3 separate regions of the Homo sapiens genome follow, and all the other regions are linked to region 2. Evidence: fine-mapped expression QTL. A gene starts in region 2. Each other region holds a variant in brackets. All regions are shown on one strand. Distances are from middle to middle.

The links.
Region 1: its variant is fine-mapped to the expression of PTPRK-AS1 in whole blood (TOPMed, PIP 0.93).
Region 3: its variant is fine-mapped to the expression of PTPRK-AS1 in whole blood (INTERVAL, PIP above 0.99).

The regions. Positions count from the first base shown.
Region 1 is chr6:128,062,912-128,071,102 of GRCh38, forward strand. It overlaps PTPRK (protein tyrosine phosphatase receptor type K), which reads right to left. Exons shown (of 30, transcript NM_002844.4): 12 at 4,608-4,881; 13 at 1,847-1,883. It overlaps PTPRK-AS1 (PTPRK antisense RNA 1), which reads left to right. Exons shown (of 5, transcript NR_125849.1): 3 at 4,576-4,685. Among named protein-coding and RNA genes, the nearest start is that of PTPRK-AS1, 39 kb to the left of the region's middle. The variant T/A (reference allele first, on the strand shown) is at 3,282.
Region 2 is chr6:128,023,990-128,032,180 of GRCh38, forward strand. PTPRK-AS1 (PTPRK antisense RNA 1) reads left to right here and starts at 3,876. Exons shown (of 5, transcript NR_125849.1): 1 at 3,876-3,934. All of the region lies in intron 13 of PTPRK (protein tyrosine phosphatase receptor type K), which reads right to left.
Region 3 is chr6:127,974,954-127,983,144 of GRCh38, forward strand. It overlaps PTPRK (protein tyrosine phosphatase receptor type K), which reads right to left. Exons shown (of 30, transcript NM_002844.4): 24 at 7,878-8,027; 25 at 6,163-6,336; 26 at 1,970-2,101; 27 at 1,704-1,829. Among named protein-coding and RNA genes, the nearest start is that of PTPRK-AS1, 49 kb to the right of the region's middle. The variant C/A (reference allele first, on the strand shown) is at 3,272.

The sequences.
Region 1 (8,191 bases), 39 kb after region 2:
ACTCTTGGCCTCAAGCTATCCTCCCACTTTGGCGTTGCAAAGTGCCAGGAGCCACCGTGTCTGGCCTATATATGTTATTTTAATCCTCACAACAATAAGAAGGTGTAGGTACTCTATTATTTAATTTTTGGAATGAGGGTTTACATAAGTTTCTCAATACTAAAAAATTCCTAAGGGACACAGTCAATATTTGAACTCAGATAGTGTAAGGCCAGAGTCCTTTCTCTTACTCACTACACCACACCACACTGCATTCCTGAGATCCAGAAGTGTAGCAGAGCTGGATTATTAGACAAATAATGGACTATTTTTTACCACTTCAAAGTTTCTGTCAATTATTCTATGCCACATGGTAAGACTGTTTCCAGGATCTCAATCCTCCTATAGTTTAAATATCATGTGATATTTGTCATTTTTTTAAATTTGTATCGAGAGAGCGATAAAAGGACACAAACATCTCAGGCAAGAGCAAATAATGAAATAACTGAATAAAAAAGTTATGTTAGGGTAATATATAGCTACCATTTCTCAGTTACAGAAACATAGCATGACATATCTAAAGAACTTCAGAGGTCAATGTGGGACACTTTTACAATTTTGGTTCTACTTTAAATCTGGAAAAACACAGGTGATATAGACCTAAATGCTTTCTTCTATTATCTTTTAAAAATTTCAACTCTCGTTCCTGATCAGTAAGCTAAATTTTTAAAATAAAATCCTTATACATCGTATGTATCTGTGTATATTTTCTCTTTAAGAATTGCTTTTTTAAATAAAAACTACCAAAAGGAATCTTCATAAGTGAATTGAAAAAGTATATTTTTTTCTCTTCCATAAAGCTTCTTTATTATTCACAAGCGTCAAAGAGAAAGTCTTTCTTTATTGCCTTACAAATCAGGAGTAAAGCACAAATGCTGATTGAGCAGACTGATGATTAGATGGAGAAAACTGATGAAAGGAAAGATGCCAGTACAAACAGAATATGGCCATTGATTTTTACCCCAAATGAATCAACTACTGGACACAAATGTGGGTCTGCTACTAATTCCGGCAGCAAACCACCCCAAGAACCAACCCTTTGAGGAGGCCCACGTCTGCATGCAGACAGCTTTTTCATGTTTCTCTTGCTAGAATACACCAAGTAGCAATTTATTCTTTGTTGGCACAATCAAGTAACTCTTAAATGAAGAATTAAAAACACAGAGAATGTAGGAGACTTTCCCCCACTTGGAACTCTAAATATTCATTCAAAGATGCAAATGTTTTCTCTTGTCAAAGAAACTAGGCAGCTAAGCCATAATATGCCAGGTCAGCAGGAATTGCCCTGGTTATGAGCTAGCCATCACAGATCTGGTTTCTCAGAATAAGTTTTAAAAAAAGTAAATGATCTTCAAGCTAACTGCACTACTGATGAAGATATGGACTAATCTCTATCCCTATAATCTTATGTAAACATGAATTAGCTTGGTTCTTTTTATGTTTGATTGTCTACAATGGAAAGTAATAGAGGTTTTTAAACAAGCAACTTGCTATTTTCATCTGCTATTGCTGACGCTTTCCTAAGATATTGGTTGATCAGCAGCACAAGATTTTTCAGACACTAAATGGCAGAAATAAGCCCTTCTAAGGTTTTCTAGATCTTTCCTGTTATCATAACAAGATTCCTTCAGTCAAGTACTAGAGGATGGGAAGTAGCACCCCATTAGTTGTTAAAGACACCCACATGAGTCACAGAACTAACTATAACAGAAATGTCATATTTAGCCCTGAAGCAGGGAACAAAGTCCTTCCATTTTAGAAAGGGGGTGAGAGTAGTTAAAACAAGCAAAAAAAGCAAACCTCTTACCTTTTGTAGCAATGCGTACGCACTGGGTTTTAGTTTCCTGATAGAGTAAAAATGAAAAAAAAAAGAGTCAATGTACAGATAATGTTTCCTGTTTCATAAACTATAATTATTATGAAGATCCATCTGGGGTCATAAAAAGGGATTATAAACAACAGAATTTTAATATTAAGAAAACTTTAAAAAATATGCCCCCCTAGGGATACTTAAAAATCTAAAGTAAGAACTTTGAAAAATATTTTAGTTTTTATAGAGATGTAAATATTTGTTTTTACCTTGCAATGAAACAGGTTAGTTTGTGACAAGTAGTATAGCATTCTATTTTCATGTATAGTGCTTCGTAAACTATCAGAAAAATGTACTTGCAAAGCTAATAAAAACAGTTCCAAATATAAATTTAATTTTCATCTGAGAACTGTAGACTGAGACCAAAGCTGAACATTACATACTTTCATCTGGATCCTAGCATGACTAAAAAGCTAAATGATAGCAGTTAGAAAGATCATCAAAACATTACATCATAGTTATGGTGTAATTTATCTGTTCTTTCTTTCTTTTAATTTAGCTATTAGGAGTTAAATGTTTCTCAGCATACATAATTTTCCTCCTCTTGCTAGACAGAGCGGGTATACAAAGTAGAAGCAGTAGGAAAGGACAAGAAAAAATATGATTATTTTTAACGCTGTCAGGTGGCAGTAGGAGACACATGTCCCTGCCAGCTACTTTTGGCCCCACTCTTCCTCCTCTAGGACTTAATTGAGTCAGCGTACATCCCTGAATACACAAGAGGTGAGAAAAGGTATCAAAGCCAGTGAACAAACCAGAGGCGATCTGTTTGCAAGATGCATTTATAACTCTATCTTGAGTAGTTCTATATGTTGATAATTTATAAAAGAGTTTACAATTTCCACTTAAGCATTTTTTATTTTTTTATTTTTAAATTAAAATAAAGCAGTGAGGGGGGAATTAGTAATTAAAAATAAAATGTTGCACTTCTATTACTTGTGGCCTGAGACCTTCATGGTAACCTGCAAGAGATTATTTCACATTCCCATAAAGGCCCCAAAGGATTTTCATTTCTTAAAAGCAATTGCTGTTTAACTTTCTAATGGCATTACCAATCTCTACTTGTAGAAGTCACATCAACTTTAAAACTCTTTGCCAAGATAACTGTGAAATATATTGTTGCTATTCTGTACTTTGATTAAACCACAGTGCAGATATATTAACAATTGGAAGAGAAAATTCATATCAAAAAGCTTTAAAGAATGCAGAGAAAATCCTTTATAAGTAACAGACATTCATTAACACTCCTCTGGTATAATAGACCAAATAACCAAAGTTAATTTGGAACCTCTCTAAAGATCAAAACCCTCACACAAAACTATGCTTCCTACTCAATGCTATATTATACCCAGAATGGACTAATAACTTCCAT[T/A]GTGTTCTGTTTTTATAGTAGCCCAGTTGTAACAGTGGTATGGAATGATATGTAGGCAGAAAGTGGACACTGGACTACTCTCTAAAGACCTCAGTTCTTTAAAGGTAAACGAGAAGAGCATCTTCAACCATGAGCAGCCTCTGACTCTGGAGCACATCTTAGAAGATGCTGTGGCCTTTTTCTTTGCTACCTACAAGCCAAGCATACAGGCAAGCAAACAACAAAGCTTTGATTCAAAAGCAGCCAATCAATACCCAAAGCTCTCACGGCCCCTGCAGAAATGCAAAAGGATTGTTATGTCTTCCAATTAAACTCTTTAAGATATAATATGACTGATGTAATTGTATATCATGTATCACTCCCAGGTGCTCACCTTAGGGACTCAATTACATAAACCCAGCAATTTCCTATACGGCTTCAAGTCTATTAAAATGTCATCATTCTATTGGATTTTAAATTGTGAAAATTTCTATCCTCAACATTTGTCTTCCCTCTATCTCTGTCTGCCAATAAATAAATAAATAAATAAATAAATAAATAAATAAAAATAAGTTTTAGGAAAGAAAATCTTCCAAAGAGAACAGCATGAGGCATGAAAGGCCAGGTTGTTTTCCCACATACGGAACTGCCGGTCGTTTCTAATGTCCTGTTGTGTTTTCCTCTTCAATATTCATTTGGGATCAGCAGCAGTGTTCAAAAACAACTGTGTCCAAAATGGGAAAAGGAGGGGCAACCAGGGAAACAGAGAGCAGCCTTCTGTAATGGCTCAGCAGCCAGTCATCGCCAGGCTGCCTTTTGTTTAGGTTCAGTCAGATATACCACAGGCGCCCTATTACTTTGTAATCAGAGGATTGTTACATGTTATTTACTATTTGGCTTGAAAACCCTGAAAAGTTTATAAGGTTTTATTAGCCTGCTGTGGAACACGCATTCTGTTTATCCTGCAGTAAATTTAATCTCTTGAAGTGTGCCACCACTGAGCAAGGAAGACAGAACAATGCCTGATCGTTACTGAGGGTGGAGTCCCAGCAGCAGCACACCCACGTTTTCAAATCATTTTACTCTCAATTGCTATTGTGGGCTTTCCTGAGGAAGGCTCGAGTAGAAGCAGTTACTAGGAAACAGGAACCCTGTGAAATGGAACTGGCGTGCGGCCTCAGCCCTACTGTAGCCCCAAAACTGCGCACACTGTTGAGAACAGAACCCCCTACATGCAAATTTTCTTTTTCTTTTTTTTTTTCTTGACGGATGCTACTGAGTATTCATAAAATTTGACTTCAGCTTTTCTTCAAAGCAGGGAAAAAGCAAATCCTGGAGGAAGCTCACCTTCTCCACACTGCTCATCGCCTGGAAATAGATGTTGTATCCTTTGCGCGGAGCCAAAGGAGGGTTCCAAAAGCCTTGGTAGGTCCGATTGTCACCCACAGTGAACGGGGCAGGCTCAGGTAGGTTTCCCGGGGGGAGTTCTGCAGCAAAGTAATACGGTGCACCCCCACTCATGGCATTTTGGTATGTGACAGGAACCTGGTAGCATTCCATGGCTCCGGCTTCTCTCTTGGTTCGGTGTGGGTGCAGTTCTTCCACAACAATCTGATAAGCACTTTGGGGAAAAGAAAAAAAGAACACACATATATATACACACATATTTAGAGATTTAAGATACTAAGATTTTTTTTAAGGGGTTGACTATTAACACACCACATTTCAAAGTATTTAAAGTTAGTCTTAACCTGGTATACTCTTTTCAGCTATTTCGCAATAAAATGAAAAATCCATATAGATGCTGCTGTCCCTAACATCACTGTAGTTACAAAGAAACTGATAAAAAGAAGAACAATCACCGTAGGACTTTCAACATTTTTAAATGTTGAGGAATGAGCCACCCTAATAAGGATTCTGACATTAACCAAAGACACATCATAGATTCAGTTCTTTGTCTGATATTTTTAAATGTTTAAAGTTAACATTTTCCCTTGAAATGATATTACAGAAAGTCCAGCTCCAAGGTCTAACAGAATGACTGCCTCAGGGCGGTGCTAGAAGCACCCATTTGTGGTTGTCACAGCCTCAGAGACAGAATGTACTGACAGGCTTCTCCACCTCTTGACCTTGCCATGGCATCTACACTGGCTCAGAGCTATGTAGATCTAAAATACAAGTGACATGCGGCAATACGGGCACAGATGGACAGAAATCTGTCCTCACAACCGAAATAGACCGCCTCCTTCTTCTGGAGTTGTTAATAATAAAATGTTACAAATTGTAGAAACAGATGGCATTTGGCCTATTAAAGCTCTAACCTAAACCTTCTGATATCTTTAAGTCTTAAAACTTTTCTATAATTGCAATTACTTTACAAAGGAGAGAAAAAAACAAAAAGAAAAACAAGGCAAATTTAAAATAAAGATCCCCCGGATATCTAACAATATTTTTTAACAACTCTGAAGCTGGTATATTAACAATATTCTTTTTTAGTAGAAAATTCTTTACGTTAAAATTTTTTCAGGTAAAATATTACCATGAAAGTTGACATTATTATTATAATATATTTTATACATTATAAATATATTTTAAAATGTTTTAAAATTCCTAAAAATTCTGGAAAAATATATGTGGTATCTTAGGTAAGTTGAACATAAATTGTATGCAGGGCTGCATATTGATATTCAATGGATCTCCAGGAGGAACAGAATACATTCTTTAAAAGACTTCCATGAAAAAGAAAGAGGTGGGTAGGTAGAGGGGAGTGGGGAGGAGAGGGGGAGGGAGAAAGAGAGACAGAGAGAGAGAGGAGAGAGAGAGATACACTGAACATGCATCTATGAAAATTAAAACAGTTTAGACTCTGGCATAAAATTCTAATTTAATATAAACTCTTATGCCTACAAATAAAAGATCTTCATAGATTAAACAAAAGGACATCAAAAGAAAGAGTTAAATCATAATTTAATTGATAAATTACAGATTTTCTTTTCTTCCTAGTTATTTAAGCTCCCATTTTCCATTAAAATATTGCTAATAAATCAGTAGGTTCATATCCATCTTGTTTCCTCTAAAAAGATAACAGAACTTGTATTAATGTTAGAAATTGTGATTTGAGCAAGCAAGGCAGAAGTCTATGTTATTTCAAATTATATGTGCTGCATCATTCCCTATACCTCTGCCAAGTTGGTTGCTAAGCTTCTAAGAATGCTACTGACAAGATGCATGGTCTCTGAGGCATCCATGGAGCAGGCATTTGTCAATTTTAAGATATAGAAAATACATACGCATAGCCCTGGAGAAAGACGAGAATGATCATAGCTGACATATGCTATGTTTTATTTTAAATTTATAATTCATATTTGTATATTATACATTTGCATGTCCTGTGGATACATCCACATATGCATATAAACTCCCTCATACATGCTCTCCAAACAAATGTAACCTTATATTCTTGCCCTAAAGAATAATAATAATTACCTATCCTTGTTAATCATTAATCTAATCCTTAAAAATAGATTCTTCATTAATTATCCCATACCTCTAGAAAAAAAAACACAAAATCTAGTGAACATTCAATCTTAACTAATTCTATTACATTGACAGAGATTCTACATTACAAATTAAGGATACTTCATGCAAGACAGCTTGTCTATCTAGATCTGTGAGGAGCAAAGTAAATTGCCAGTGTTGGAGAAGAGTAAAGGAAGAAAAGGTGCAATAGGCTCTTTGGGAAAGAGCCTTAAGTATGGTCCCATAGAAAATAAAAATCAATGCCTTGGGTTGAACTTTCAGATTTGGCCCTACTCTCAATTAAAATGAAAGATAAATTATTTCAATTTTATAAGTTCTAAAATACAAGTAACATGCTTGTTTCATAAAGAATTAAGAAAATGATTTCCACATAATTTATATACAAATATAAATTACAGTGCCATGCACTTTAATCTTATATATCTTTTCTCTACCAATATTATTCATTTATTCTTTGAATGGTCATTACAGAAATGAAGTATTATATTTCTGTTACTATTGAAACTGAGGCAGAAGAATAGAGCTCCCCTTAAAACTTAAACCAGGAACCTCACTTTGTTCATTCTCTACTTTATACTACAGTGTTACCAACTGAATATTTGTGCCCCCTCCCCCAAAATTCATGTTAAAACCCTAATTCTCAAAGTGATAGTATTTGGAGAGGGGGCCTTTGGAAAATAATTAGGTTTAGAAGAGGGGCCCTCACCAAGAACCAAATCCGAGAGCACCTGGATCTTGGACTTCCCAGTCTCCAGAACTGTGAGAAATATTTCTTGTTTAAGCCACCTAGTATTTTGTAATAGCAGCCTGAGCAAACTAAGACACATAAATACAAAAAGACTTCTGAGAACTGGCTTCCAAGCATACTTTCTAAAACATTCTTTGTGCAATGAGTAACATTAGATGGAACGCTAGTTGGAGATAACCTGGTCACCGCACTCTATAACCCTCCCACTCTACCACCACTCATACCAGGAGAAATGTCTTCATGATATAACATTCACCCCAGTTTCTAGATATTTTTAATCCCAAATATGTTTAACTCCAAAAGCTGATACAATAGCCATTACATTTTCACATATTATACTTACTTAAACGCCCATTATCCTATTTGAAACCACACTGGAATATGTGGTTTCAAATAGGATAATGGACGTTTAAGTGTTTATGAAATGAATACATTGCTTTTGCCTTTTCTGTTGATATTTTTGCTTAGGACATATCTAAGATACTCTTTTTCTTTCTCCATGAAAGTACATTTTTCACCTGAAAAATCCCGAGCATTATTTGAAGAGTAAGAATTTTCTCATTTACCTTTCTTCCTGTGACATTGTATCCATTAACTCATTTTCATTCAACAATTATATATTTAACAGGTATCATGCAGGCTC
Region 2 (8,191 bases):
AATAGAGACATCTCTAGGGCAATCAGATAATTCACAAATTTTAATCTCTGTTCACTCATATTATTTTTCTTTCCCAAACAGGCATTTAACATACCCGCACAATTCAAAGCTACTTAAATATTCCAAGTCATCACAGTAACTCAATCCTTTAAGCACATAACATTTCAACCCAGATGAACACACTAAAATAATTTAGAAACAGACTAAAATAATTCCTTGTAAGAGCTCTGTAAACATCTGGACAAATCTTATTCTATCATATCACAATGTACTTTAATAACTAAGTCTATTCTAGGCACATGGCCACAACTACTTGCATTGTAACAGATGATGTTCTCAATATAAGATTATGTTGCTATGGCATCAACAAACCATGATCTTATGAATCAATTCTCTTATTTACCAGGATCATTTTTAAGGAAAATAAAAAATTACTGGTTCTCTATTACATGTTTACATTTATGATAAATGTAAATTTAGCACTAAGTATGAAAATTAGTAATTTGACATTTTCTTAGTGTACAAAATGAGACCTATGGCCAGGCATGGTGGCTCACGCCTGTAATCCCAGCACTTTGAGAGGCTGAGGCAGGCAGATCACTTGAGGTCAGGAGTTCAAGACCAGCCTGGCCAACATGGTGAAACCCCATCTCTACTAAAAATACAAAAAATTAGCTGGGCATGGTGGCAGGCACCTATAATCCCAGCTACCTGGGAGGCTGAGACAGGAGAATTGCAACCTCCTGGGAGGCAGAGGTTGCAGTGAGCCGAGATCGTGGCACTGCACTCCAGCCTGAGTAACAGAGCAAGATTCCTTTTCAAAAACAAAAACAACAACAACAACAAACCAGGCCTATATTGTAATCACTGATAATTGCTAGAATTTATCATTAGATTTTTCAGGATCATTAGATTTTTCAGCAATATAGTTTTGCAATTTATTAACATGTACCAAAAGAATGAATATGAGAGAATAGAATGTAAATTGTAATATTTACCTTTTCAACTAAGATCACACAGTACTAGTTTATTTTGCAGTACAACAAGTTTGTCTTTGACATATGTGGAATAAATTCTACAAAGCTGAAAGAATTTGCCAGTCCTTTTAAATTAAGATTATCTCAAGCTATTTCCAAATCCTCAACAAACTGAAACATGGTTTTTGCATTCTGCATGTAGGAATGTGGCTGACAACAAAGATTTGCATAAGACACTCCACTCTCTCCCTGTGAGGCCAAGTTTTGTATTCCTTCATTAGTTTGTATGAATTCATATAACGAAGTCTCTGGCTCAGACAGATTGTTTTCTCTAACTTTTGTTATATGAAGATTATTTCAGCTGAACCTGAAAGGAGACACACATTCTTATACATCTTTTGCAAAATTGTCCTACCTTATAGAGGAAGAATAAGTAAACACATTTAAATCAAGATGAAAATCAATAGTTTGTAGATTAGAAAACCCTGGTTCTATCTAGCTCAAATAAGATCAAATGCTGACTTAACAACTGCATCTAAAAGAAAAAGTCATAAAATAATTTTCTATGTCTGTATTAGTTTCTCAAGGCCACTGCAGAAAACTGCCACACACTTGATGGCTAAAAACCACACATATTTATTCTCTTACAGTTCTGGGAACTAGAGGGCCCCAAAGCAGTATCACTGGGCCAAAATCAAGGTGTCAGTAGGGTTACCCTCGCTGCTGAGGCTCTAGAAGAGAACTCATTCCTTGCCTTTTCCAGCTACCAGTGCTGCTGGCATTCCTTGACTTGGGGTTACATGACTCCAGTCTCTACCTCTGTGGTCACATTGACTTCTCCTCTGTCAAATCTTCCTCTGCTTTGCTCTTATAAGAATACATGTAACTGGATTTAGGGCCCACACTGTTAATCCAGTATAATCTACCTTGTCAAGATCCTTTACTTAATCACATTTGCAAAGACCGCTTTTCCCTAAAAGATAACATTTACAGCTTATTGGGATTAGGACCTGGTATCTTCCAGTAGCCATTATTCAGCCTACTAAAATCTATATGCTTTCCAATGTATTTTTAAACAGAATTTTTCAAGGTATAGGCTTTAAAAAATTAAGAGAATCCCAAGAGATCTAAACAGTAAGAGAGAGAGGCCTAAGTGATGATATTGAGTGGTATTGAACAAAATAAGACAAAGAAGATCATCTGCCATATTTGACAGATGTTGGTAGACAACATCTTCTCTTCATGTTCCGTTGTTTGTAATTTGTTTTTACTGCTACCAGAACCTCTTACAATTCTCTACTCACTCATGTAAATACTAGCTGCAGAAGGTCTGGCAAAACTTTCTCCTATTTGTATATGTGTAAAGTGGTCTTTCCCTTACATCAAGTTAAAGAAAAAATACAGTTGTAATAGCTACTTCCCAATAGCCAAAGGGTTGTATTTGAAAGAGGGATGAAAATCACTCCAGGTACCAAGAAAAACTACTGTGTGATCTGGGACAAGTTATCTGCTTTTTTTGAGACCCACTTTTCTCATCTTTACAATGAAATAACTAAATTCTGCTCTCTAGGCTTGTTCTGAAGATTACTGAATATACATTTAAAGTACCTAGAAGTATTTGACACATAGCAGGAACTTAATATACAATTACTGGTATTACTATTAAGGATTAAGAAAGCACTGGCATGCAACATATTATATATTTGACAAGATTACATCATCTTGAAAAAATATAAGAAGTATTCTTTTTGTATAGTACTTTAAGGAGGATATTATTCATTTTATATCATTTTCCTTCTCACTGTGATATGTAGAATATATCACACCAAAATTGTGGTTGACCCAACACTCCAACCAGTGTCCTATTTTATTCACTCTGTATTTCTTAATCTATTCAATAAATATTACTAAATCCATTTGCTGTGCTAGATGCTGAGGGAGGTGTGTGACACAGCCTGTAGTCTAGTAGGGGAGGTAGGCATTAAATAATTAACTCCAGTCAATTTCAGTGCTATATATGAAAAAGACAATTCACTCCTTTTTATGACTTGACTTACAGCTCACAGTGCCCAGAAAACTGGGATTCTTGATAGAATGCGCCACATATATCCTAATTAGCAACAATCACTAGTTTGGCCCCATAATGTACATACCTAACACACACTTTCACAGGCAAGAGAAGAAAATACCTATCATCATATTATGATCAAAGTATTTTGAAGTAAAAATACTTCCTCATTATTTCTTAGAATACTGCATACAGCAATTCCTTTAAAAGCAGACTCTACTAGCATGTTTCCCACTGAACAGAACTGTTTGTCCATTTAACCAAAAGGTATTTATTGCCCGGGAATTCATTAGTTCATTATTTGAAGAAATACGTATATTGGGCAAGAATGTAAATCAGGCTGTTTAGTTATCACATGAAAATGCATAAAACAGTACCCACATTCAAAGAGTTCAAAGAGTCCTTCAGGAAATCAGGTGCCTAAAAGTCAAACTGACCTTTAAAAAAAAAATGTTCATAGCTTCCTCTGTTAAATGAATGATCGTTTCAGAGCTTTCTAAATGCCAAACTCTTTTAATATATTATTTCAATTAGCTTTCACAAGCACTTATGAGGCTTGTTGTATGTTTTTTTTTTCCTTTGAGACAGAGTCTTGCTCTGTCACCGAGTCTGGAGTGCAGTGGAGCCATCTCAGGTTACTGCAACCTTCTCCTGGGTTCAAGCAATTCTCCTACCTCAGCCACCCGAGTAGCTGGGACTACAGGCGTGTGCCACTGTGCCTGACTAATTTTTGTTTTTAGTAGAGACGGGGTTTCACTCTGTTGGCCAAGTTGGTGCGTACTCCTGGCCTCAAGTGATCCGCCCACCTTGGCCTCCCAGAGTGCTGGGATTACAGGCATAAGCCACTGTGCCCAGCTGTATCTTCTTTTACCGATGAGGACACTGACAGGTTGGTATCACCTCTTTCCTAGTCTATATTGCAGCCACTCCCTTATTGAAGTTTCTGACTCCAAGTCCTACTCATCCTAATCTACCTGCAGCTTTTAAGGTGTCATTTTTCTAAAACTTAAATATGATCCTATCATTGTTCTTCTTAATAGCCTACAAAGATTTCAGGGAAAATGAAAATGACGAATATAAATTATACTGCACACACTATTTATAATAATATTTAGCCACTTAAAATTAAAACACATAAAAATGTGGGTAAAGCTCATGGTAAAATAGTAACTACAAATAATTACAAGTCACAATCTTTGCAATTATGAGAAATGTTTAAGTAAGCACCTGATAAAAAAAAGGAAAAAGCAAAAGTGATAACAGTTGCTTAGAATATTGTTTCAGAACACCTTTTAAGGTTACCACACTGTTTTAATTTTTAAAGTGGAAGAGAAAGTGCTTTAGCACTGTTGATAGCTGCCACCCTGCCCTCAAGATAAAGTGAATCTTGAGTCTTACAGCCCTTTCTCATATCTGTATCAACATACATTTTAGCCTAATTTCTTACTAACTCCTCAGTATATTCTTGAACACTGCATTAACTTTCATGTCTAACTGCAAACCTCTGCCCATGCTGTTACCAGTGTGGATATGGTCTCTGGTTTTTCTACCTATTTAAATGTCACTTTGTATGGAATTCTATTTCATGTTTAGGCACACTGCATGAAATTATTACTTCAACTATCAGGTTCTTTCACAATTCACAACTTCTTGAGAGCATGGAACATATCCTATGTATTTTTAGTATTTTCTCAATGCCTAGTGTAAGACATATGGCAGAGAGTAAGTGTGCAACAAAATTGTGTTAATATTCATATTTTTCATAAGTGAAAACAATTTTTTTGTTGATATGATGCTTTGATGGTTTCTGATTTAAGGTTAGGATGTTAAACGGACTCTATTTTTACATGACCATAATTCTACTCCCCAATTCTGTTCCTAAATCTTTAGTGAGCTAAGAATTCAGATTCATGGTAAGGTTAGAATTGTGCTGGACTGCTTGTGACTTCAACTATCCATCTTCCATGGTCAGTTCTTGATCAACTGATACAGTTTGGGTGTTTGTGCCCTCCAAATCTCATGCTGAGATGTATTCCCCAATGCTGGAGATGGGACTTGGTGGGAGGTTTTTGGTTTTGGGGGTTGGCTCTCTCACGAATGCCTTGGTGCCATCCTCACAGTAATGAGTGTTCTTGTGAGATCTGGTTGTTTAAAGAGTGTGGACCTTCCCTCTCCTGTCTCCCTCTCTTGCCAAGTGATACATGGTTCCCCTTCACCTTCTGCCATGATTGTAAGCTCCCTGAGGCCCTCACCAGAAGCAGATGCCAGCACTACGCTTCCTCTACAGCCTGCAGAACCATGAACCATTTAAACCTCTTCTCTTTATAAACTACCCAGTCTCTGACTGCATGCAGTGGCTCACACCTGTAATCCCAGCACTCTGGGAGGCTGAGGCAGGTGGATCATTTGAGTTCAAGACCAGCTTGGCTAACATGGTGAAACCCGATCACTACTAAAAATACAAAAATTAGCTGGACAGGGTGGCGGGCACCTGTAATCCGAGCTACTGGGGAGGCGAGGCAGAAAAATCACTTGAACCTAAGAAGCAGAGGTTGTAGTGCCAATGCACTCCAGCCTGGGTGACAGAGTGAGATTCCATCTCAAAATAATAATAATAATAATAATAATAATAATAATAATAATAATAATAATAATCCAGCCTCACATATTACTTTATAGCAATGCAAGGACTAACTAACACACCAAATGAAGGCCAAATTTCTTACTTTGCTTACTCTTCAAAATACTTGTAAAGCATCATGATCCAGATGTGCTGGAGATTGAGGATGAAAGATAAAAGAAGAAAGAATCTATACTCTCAAAAATATCACTGCTTAGGTTCCCTAGAAGCAGAGCCTAAGACAAGGATTTGGATGCACATGATTTATTAAGGGAGTGTTGTCAGATGAAAAGGAGAGAGGAAAGTAGGGTAGGAAAGGGAAAGCAGCTAAGTGAGAATGTGGTATTAGCATAAGTCTAACTTCAGCCTGATGTCACGGGGAGCACTAGAGCATGAATTGCCCCAGAGTTGACCTAATGAAGTGAGGGCACTGGCTTTTTGTATTCCCCATGTCAGTTAGTCATCAGATATGAGCTGATAGTGCTGGGAGATGGGCACATAAGGTTTGGCAAAGTAAATGTTTTTCAGCTACAAGTGATTCTGAAGAGAAGTGGGGGCTGTGAGCCAATAGCAGCTAACACTGACGGAAACTGGGCATTTTACAGGCTTGGTAAAAGGGATCTGGCCAGGGCACCAAAGGTGACTAAAGTCACAGGAAAGCAGCACAACCTCCAAGTGACAACATACTCCGCTCTTTAAAAAAATATAAAGCAGCAAGGAAAGAGGCATTTTGAAGGGTAAAAATCATAAGATTTATAACTTAACCAGCAGTGTTTCTAGCTCAATCAGCAGTTGCTCATATTTATCTGTACATCCTGACATTATCTGTAGACGGTCCTTAAAACCTGACTCTTCCCTTAGCTGTGTCCTGTAAGATATGGATATTTCTTAGTTGCTGTTTCTAGCTGTGCATCTTGAAATTGCATTCTTGGATTATTTTAATCTTATCAAAGCCTTTATATGCGTGACTCTGACTGAAAATGGAGGGCTTCTTCATTTCCACAGAACAACTCCTACCTGGCTGATCAGATAGCAGCTGGATTATTCTTTTAAAAACAGTTGATTCTCTGTATAAAGCTTGTGCACATCAGGCTTGCTTTTTTTCCCCCAAGTCAGAAATCAAGTTCAAGAAGAATTTCAAGCTGACATAAAAATAATTCCCCTCAAAAGTCTAAAATGTCATTCTCTACAGCCTATACTAAACTTTTCACATGGAAATGGTTACGAACATCTGAGTATTGCATGATTGAACCATAGCATTCATTTTTTTCCCCAGCAAATATTTATTAGACACTTACTAGGTTCAAAAATTACACTAAATGACATGATAGATAAAATGATTAAATCAAATGAAACTTCAAATTTGAAAGAAATACTGGACACTATCACATCTGTGAAACTTTTATTAGCAGTAGAAATTTAAAAAATAAAATCATACGTAGGGACCCAATATATGAAACACTGAGAGCACAGACACAGTAGCTGAAACAGAAATAAGATACCACAGCCTTGAATGCTCTGACTTCATTTTGCCCCACATTCTTGAAAAATCACTCATTCAAGTGCATTTATAGTTTGGGCAACCTAGATTTGAACAGGTGATTTGGCTAAACGTACACGACTGCTTTGTAGAACCCAGGTCATCCGACACCAAGCTTGGTACATTTTCTTTCAAACTGCAGCTAAAGATATACTTCCCATCCTCTGGCACTTTGCACTTTGTTTGAAAAGAAAATAAATGTTCAATAATGATACAAATTGCATGACACTAATGCTATATAAATGCTGCAGAGTAATTTACATAAGACTGGGAAATGTGAAATGAATCATTCACAGAAGAAACTGATGAAGTAATTTCAATGTCTACATAAAATTTCTCAGTGTTTCATGTAAGAACAGACTATGGTAATTATCTTTTGTTGTTATTGTTGGGGAGGAAAGTAACTAATGAGTAAATGACAAATAACCAAACTCCAAATCAATTTAAAAAAAATCAGCTATGCTCCTTTCCCCTAACAACCCAAATACTTCCAAATGTTTCTACAATCAAAACTGCTTGGGCTGGGCTTTATTTATCCTCCCTTCTTTAGCCTTCAATTTGTAGATCTTGAACTAATTTAGAACAGTTTAAAGAACACCAAAAGTTAAGTGACAAAGACAAAGAGATGCACTGCCTCCTACACTCTTTCCCTGTAAGAAAAACACTGGAACGGTCCAGTGACCTGTCTGAGTCAGCATCCTCAATCTCATGTCCTGTCTTTCCTGCACCCTCACCCTGTGTCAGGGTCCTCCGGCTGTGATAAGCTCCCAAATTGCAAGTGTCACAGGCTTCAGTGGACCAGTGTATTCGCAGTCACAACAGCAAGGACTTGCTGTGGAAAGAAGGTGCTATTTGAACAGTTCAAGTGCTTCTGGTTTGCTGTGTCTGCTCTGATCGCAAAATTCTATCTGATTTTGACCTGCGACCTATCTCTAATGTCCAGCTTCTTGTACAACGCAGACTCCTGAGGCATCCTCGGGCTGCTG
Region 3 (8,191 bases), 49 kb before region 2:
ATCAGATTGGCAAGAGCCCATGCATCTTTTGGTAGATTACAAGCCCTACTTAGTACTCTACAAACTTGTTGGTACATGTTAAATGTTTGATGCAGTTAAATATATTAAATATATTAAATGATGAGAGTGAGAACAGAAAAAAAATCATGTACTAATAAGGACCAGAATACCAAATACAGAGGCAGTTCAATAAGTAAGCAAACAAATAAATAAATATGCTGACAAAAATATAACATTTCAGTTCCTGTTCCTAGAATATTTTTCACATAAACTGCTCAATTAACAGACAAGCCTTACTGTCTTCAGCAGTTCTGTTTTTTTCCAACTCAAATATTACTAGAACCATAATGTAACAGATGTGCAGACATAATGAGATTCCATTTAAATTAACATCTAAGATATGCATGAATATTATGAGATGATTGAAGTTATCCTTTTTTTCTCCACTGAAATGAGCAATAGGAGTCGATATGATTCCATTCCCTGCTCATAGTTATATACATATAGACTTATTAACCAGACACACACGTAGTCATTTTGATATGAGAGACACTGAAACATGATAATCCTAATCACACACTTAAAATACATACCCACAGAGCTGGTGCTTTAAAAAACAGAGTAATGTTTCTCTCTAAAAAGAGCTTAATTTCATGAAAGTTACTAATGTTTTCTTTTCCAATTCTGCTTGTTATTTGGTTACATAATCTAAATTGTTTTTATTAATATCTTTTTTTGGGGGACGAAGTCTCGCTCTATACAGCCTGGGGTGCAGTGGCGTGATCTCAGCTCACTACAACTTCTGCCTCCCGGGTTCAAATGATTCTGCTGCCTCAGCCTCCCCACTAGCTGGGACTACAGGCATGCCACCACCATGTCCAGCTAATTTTTGTATTTTTAGTAGAGATGGGGTTTCACCACGTTGCCAGGCTGGTCTTGAACTCCTGACCTTATGATCTGCCCGCCTTGGCCTCCCAAAGTGCTGGAATTACAGGCATGAGGCACTGTGCCCGGGCTTTATTAGCACTTTTTTTTTTAAGATCTTCCCCACCCACATTGAATTTGTCATGTAGTGGAAAGCAAATGAGGAGTCAGAGAAAGACGATACAGTTACTACTTTGCTGCTGGGAAAAGGCATGGTGGTAGCAGCACTGGTTCTACCTTTAGATCTGCTTAGAGCCATAGGTTGAGACGTTTAGGAAGATGAAATTGCAGGTAGGATAATCAATAATGAACTTGGAACAGTGACATGGAACCCTTCTATAATGGTTGATCCAACATGTCTCTTTCCTCCTGCAGTACAGTTTCTCTGTCATTATTGTTATTGCAATGTTCTTATTTTTTTTATCACATGCCATTTCTGGGCTGGATGTCAATACTAATAAAACATGCAGTCATCCTTAAGATAAGTCTACATACACTCAGAGGCCAGGCCTAGGCTGTCCAACTTGACTGAGCCAGTGCATCTGTATTTCCTGAGAGAATATGCTAGTCTAGTGACTGACCGAAAAACCTAGCTTCCAGCATTTCTGTTTTCCTGTATTTTTATTCGAGTACTAAGGCATAAGATGGTTACTAGCTTTGAGGTGGATGATATAGTGCTTATTAATTGTAGTCTCCCTGTTGTCTGAATAAAATTATACCACATCTTGGTTATGACTGACCTATTCTAGATCAGCTCAAAGGATCCGATAGTGACTTACTCTTGTTAGATTGCATATCCTAAAAATCCGGTTGATCACATCACAGTCCATTGAACAAGACATACATTCCACTTGGATGGGGCCATATCGTAGCATCCCTTCCTCTGGCCAGTACTGAGGGCAGCCCTAAATGATGAACGTTTTGAAAGAAAAAAAAAAAGAGTATTATTTTTTCTAGTTAGGAGAGTATAAAGCAGATTTTAGCAATTCATTACTACTCTATTAAGTTGTATATAAGTACATAAAAGCAATCCATAGCCATTAACCTGGGACAAGTCGACTTCGTTTAACATCACAATGGAGGTACAGCCATAATCATACACTAATCTCCAGAAGTCTTTTACAGTGTTTGGCAGAGGGTATTGTGTGACGATGAAAGCAGCTGGTTGCCTGTAGCTCTGTGAAGAAACAAGGTAGATGGAGAAATATAAAAACTTAAAATGTATGATCGGTTGTACAAACAGATACAATACACTTCAATGTAGGACCAGTAAGATGCAATAGCTTCATATGCAGAAGGAGCCAGAGTGATGATTAAACCATGGAATAGGAGATTCAGACCACTGGAATGAACTGAATTAGTACAGTAATGAATCAATTTGGTGGAAGACTTCAATGCTTCCAAAGCAATTCAAGTCAATAACTGAGTTTTTACTTTACTGAAAGACGTAAATACAGGACAAATACAAAAGAAGAAACTAAAAAGCTTCTGAGGTTAACATCCTCTGTAAGGTTCCTGTTGGGCTATTTCAATTTTCCAAACGTAATCAGTCTCTGAGAGGCTGAAGGCAAAGTAAGCACAAAACCCCTGGTATGTCTATCAATCATCTGGGTATGTGTATAGTGTGTGTGCGTGCAAGTAAAATTGTTTTACTCTTCTCCACTCCAAATAAGAAAAACCACAAGTAGCTCAAACACTTGTGCTTTTACATTATGTGGACACTACCAGGATATTCTGCACATCTTGCAGACAATCCACCTTCCACAGCTTCCTGGGCATTTCTAACATATATCAAAGGTCATAATGACAGTCTCAACCATTTAAGATCCTGAAGCACCAAAGCATAACAGCAATATATTTCCTGTCCCCACATAAGCGGGGAGATAGCTCCTTGTTAACCAAGTCCTCCTTGATTAGAACACAATATATTATCTCTTTCCAAAGGGAGAAGTAGTAAAAACAATATTTATCTGGACTGGACAATTGCCATTTGATTTAAACTAATTATTTGCAATAATAATAATAATAATTAGTAGATTATAGAGTTCCCTAATGCTGACAAAAATTTTCAATGATCTTGTAACTCATTTGTATCATACTACTATTTAAGTCCTTCAAGAATCTTAACATCAGCACAGGAACTGGTTCTTGGACTTCACTGATGCTACCACCATTTGGGAAATGCTACCAACCATGGCATTCAGCGTTGGCTGAAGACTGCAGGATAAATCTGAGTAGATGACAATAATAATTTACCTGGCTACTTCTAAATGACCTCAAAACCTTACCAAGTTACACGTGCAGCTGGGATGAGTGTCTCCTAAGAAAGGCAGGAAGGTTCATGAGT[C/A]ATATTGTTTGGCTCTGTGTCCCCACCCAAATCTCACCTAGAATTGTAATAATCCCCACATGTCAAGGGCAGGACCAGGTGGAGATAATTGAATCATGCAGGCAGTTTCCCCCATGCTGTTCTCCAGATAGTGAGTGAGTTCTCATGACATCTGGTGGTTTTATAAGGGGCTTCCCCCTTTGCTTGGCACTCCTTCCCCTTCCTGCCACCATGAGAAGAAGGACGGGTTTGCTTCCCCTTCGGCCATAATTGCAGGGATCCTGAGGCCTCCCCAGCCCTGTGGAACTGTGAGTCAATTAAAACTCTTTCCTTTATAAATTACCCAGTCTCAGGTATGTTTTTATTAGCAGTGTGAGAATGAACTAATACAATGAGAAAAGTTAGAAGAAAGGAAGCTCTTCTTCCAATCAAATGTCTGCTCCATGCAAAGGTAAGTCAAAGCAGACTGACGGCTATCTACTCATTTTTTGAGCCACAGGGGAGGGGATATGCATGAGGAGGAGCTGATAAGAGAGGAGAAGACTGAAGACTTCCTATTCTTTTTCCCTCTAAATGCAGGAACATATGTAAGGCTTTGAAATTACAGAATTCTTGGCCCTAGCTCCTAATCCCTCATAGACCTGGCAAAAGGGTACTAATGATGGGGATAAAGGGTAGGGAGAAAGAAGTGAACAATAAACCCTGTTCTTGTAAATCAAACCAGCTTTACTTCTCCAACGGTTCATTTGCACTACTAAATCCCCAGAACAGCTTTAACTATGAAATGTCTTTTTTTTGAATCACAGGGGATTAAGCAGACAGTAAGAGCAGGTGGATTACAAGCTTCAACTTTCATACAGAAAAAAAGACAAGCTTGGACAAGAAAGCAAGACCCCATCTTTACAAAAAATAATAAAAAAAAAATTAGCTGGGCATGATGGCATACACCTTAGTTCTAGCTACTTGGTAGGCTGAGGTGGGAGGACCACTTGAGCCCAGGAGATTGAGGCTGCAGTCATCTGTGATCATGCACGACACTCCAGCCTGTGCTACAGAGTGAGAGCTTGTCTCAAAAAGAAAAAGAAAAAAGAAAAGAAAAGGAGACAATCTGGACATTGAGAAAAATTTGACAAAGATGCCAATGGCAAAAAATTCAAAGGCATCAATGCTTTTCTAAATATTATTATTTTCTCCTTTTCTTGTTCACACATCCTTTTTTTATTCCATATTTAGATGCAGAAATGAAAAAGTATTGTATGCCATCTCTCTATTTAGTATATTTGCCTTTCCAGACACCTAATATAAAAAGAAAAGGTATAATTAGGATTTAATGTGATTTCAGTGGATGTGATTAATGGCCAGGCAAGACTCCGATCACAGCAAGGATGAGAGCTTTTCACAGGCAAGAGTGACCACAGCAAGGACGAGAGCCTGCCTTTAGACTATTCCGCTTTGCAGCACCAAAAAGAGTAAAGTAACTGGTGAAGACTACTCGTAGAAACAGAATGTGGGCTTAACAGGAACAATAACTTAGAAAGCCTGTTATAGTCAGAAAGAAATGAACCGTGGCTTCTAATTTCTCCTTGATATGGTTTCATAGGAGAAAGGGCAAAAGCTAGAAATGAAGGCAGTAAACTGTTTAAAAAGATTATAAACCATGATAGCTTTCTTGCTTCTTTCCAACATAATCAAAGTAAAGTGGCCAAAGTCATAATTTAAAACTTTCTTTCCTTGGGAGGCCAAGGTGGGCGGATCATGAGGTCAGGAGTTTGAGACCAGCCTGGCCAATGTGGTGAAATCTCATCTCTACTAAAAATACAAAAAAGGCCCGGCACGGTGGCTTACGCCTGTAATCCCAGTACTTTGGGGGGCCGAGGCAGGTGGATCACCTGAGGTCAGGAGTTCAATACCAATCTGACCAACATGGTGAAACCCCATCTCTACTAAATACAAAAAATTAGCCGTGCATGGTGGTGCATGCCTGTAGTCCCAGCTACTTGGGAGGCAAAGGCAGGAGAATCGCTTGAACCTGGGAAGCAGAGGTTGCAGTGAGCCGAGATTGTGCCATTGCACTCCAGCCTGGGCAACAAGAGCGAAACTCTGTCTCAAAAACAAAAACAACAACAAACAAACAAAATAAGCGGGGTGTGGTAGAGCACGCTCCTGTATTCCAAGTTACTCAAGAGTCTGAGGCAGGAGAATTGCTTGAACCTGGGAGGCGGAGGTTGCAGTGAGCTGAGATCATGCCACTGCACTCCAGCCTGGGCGACAGAGTGAGACTCTGTCTAAAAAAAAAAAAACCAAAAACTAAAACAGAAAACTTTCTTTCCATATTGTTCTGTCTATGGGCTATATAACACCCTGCAATTTAAGATTTTAGAATGGGGCAAGATTGTTCTTTCATTATGATGGATGTGTTAACATAATACCATCCATCCCCTCTCTAGTTACTTATAATAGTCCTTATTGATTAATGGCCAACAAATTAATTGTAAATTATTGAAACATTAAATGTCAGAAATAAAAATTTCCCAAATTAACATGATTTTTGTAGGATTTGGCATTCTGTGATTTAAAAAATTCATTTCTAATTATATTCAAAATAGATAAGGCATGATTTTCTTTTCTGAAAATAATTAAGATGAAATTTATAACTTGCAATATTTACTACATGAATATAATAATTGACAATCAAGCTCCAAATCTACAATAAAGCTATAAAAATGACAGTTCTTAAGAATCTCTATAGGGAAAACCTAAAATCATTTTCCAAAAAAATGTGTTTCAATAAAAGTTTCCACTTTTCCTTTTTAGGTTATTTTAATTTCCTCGAAAAGAAAACTAGCCAGTGTTCAGTTGCATTATGTAGCTTTCCACAACACTCTACACTAACAAAGAGGGCAGTCTCTTACGTCCATAAGAGCAGCATTGATGTAGTTACTGCTCTCCCCATCAATTGTAATTAAAAAAGGCAGACATCTGTCAGGTGGCAGCATGTCCATGAAACGGTTCTTGTCATGGTTCCTTGGCAGGCACGCTATACTGCAGTCTTCAGCTTGTAGTCGAGGGGTGACTGAATTCAGAGTCTAAAAAGAAAAGAGAACCCAGGTTAAAAGACAGTGTGACCCATTTAACAGTATAACACAGATCCATCAGGAATTTAGAAGGCCAAGTAGAAAGTGAAGGATTTGTGCGAGGCAATGGCATTTGCTACTATGACAGGCTGATAGACCTTGTAGTTAAAGCTAATGAAGCCTGAGAAGTGACAAAGAAACAAGACACACATTGTTCAGGGCTCCTCTTCTTAAAAGGAAAAGGTACGCTAAACAACACTGCTACCTGCAAAATGCATTGCCTTAACCAAAGAAAATGCAATCGGGCAGTCCATTATGATAATGACCCTTCATCACACTGGGAAACGGTATCATTTGTAGTAACATCTGGGCTTGCCATATTTGAAGATAAGCTATGGCATGTTGGAAAGAGCACTGGATCAACAATCAAAGAATTTGGTCTCTGCCCTTGATTTTATTTTCACCCACCTTCAGGGGTGTTTTAAGGGCAGTGAAAACATTTAGGGCTATTTTGAAATAACATGTACTACAAACTTCATTTATTATTATTATTACTATTATTATTTTTGAGACAGGGTCTTACTCTGTTGCCCAGGTTGGAGTGCAGTGGCAATATCTTGGCTCACCACAGCCTTCCAGGGTTAAGCAAACTTCCAGGGTCAAGCAATCCTCCCATCTCAACCTCCTGAGTAGCTGGGACTACAGGCATGCACCACCACACCCGGCTATTTTTTATATTTTTTGTAGAGATGAGGTTTTGCCATGTTGGCCAGGCTGGTCTTGAACTGCTGACCTCAAGATCTGCCTGCCTTGGCATCCCAAAGTGCTAGGATTATAGGTGTGAGCTGCCACTGAACCCAGACTCAGTTATAATTAATGTGCTTGATCTCATCACATTGTGAGTGACCCAGGTCAAAATCTGTATGACTGCATGAAAAAAAGGCTATAAATACACACTAAATACACACAAATCACCACTCATTTTGACTTGTTATTATTTCTTTTTTTTTTCTGAGACGGAGTCTCGCTCTGTTGCCCATGCTGGAGTGCAGTGGTGCAATCTCGGCTCACTGCAAGCTCCGCCTGCCAGGTTCACGCCATTCTCCTGCCTCAGCCTCCCGAGTAGCTGGGACTACAGGCACCCGCCACCATGCCTGGCTAATTTTTTTTGTCTTTTTAGTAGAGACGGGGTTTCACCGTGTTAGCCAGGATGGTCTCGATCTCCTGACCTCGTGATCCACCCGCCTCGGCCTCCCAAAGTGCTGGGATTGCAGGCATGAGCCACTGCGCCTGGCCTAATTTTTGACTTTTATGATACCTTTCCCCTTTGCTCTTCCCTAAGTCTGAACTTATTTGTCATTTTGGATATAGTAGATATAAATTCATCAATAGAAAAGTGACTATATAATATGTATAATGAAAGAGATACGTATTGTATTTAAAACAGGATCAAAGGTTATAAATTTGACTTGAAAGACCTTCCTTGAAAGGATTCCTAGCGCCCAGAACAAATTGTAGTAAGTCACAAAAGAGGTTTTAGAAATAGTTAATACCTGAAATTCATCCTTGAGATGTGAAGAGTTAGTCTGGGAGTCTATTCTAATCATATCAAAATATGCAGCTTTAAATTCACAGACAGGTATGGCAGTTTCTCCACATAAGCAGGCTTCTAAAATGGCATCATGAATAAAAATGTACTGTTCCTACCAAAAGAATGAAAAAGAAAATTTTGTACTAGTTTTAGTATCACTTTTCTGTCATCAAAGTTAGGAAATACAGAAAATTTTCTCTATATGGAAATATGAATTAAAACACCAATATTTTTCTATATGACTCAGCTAATATTGATTACACATGAAAAACATCT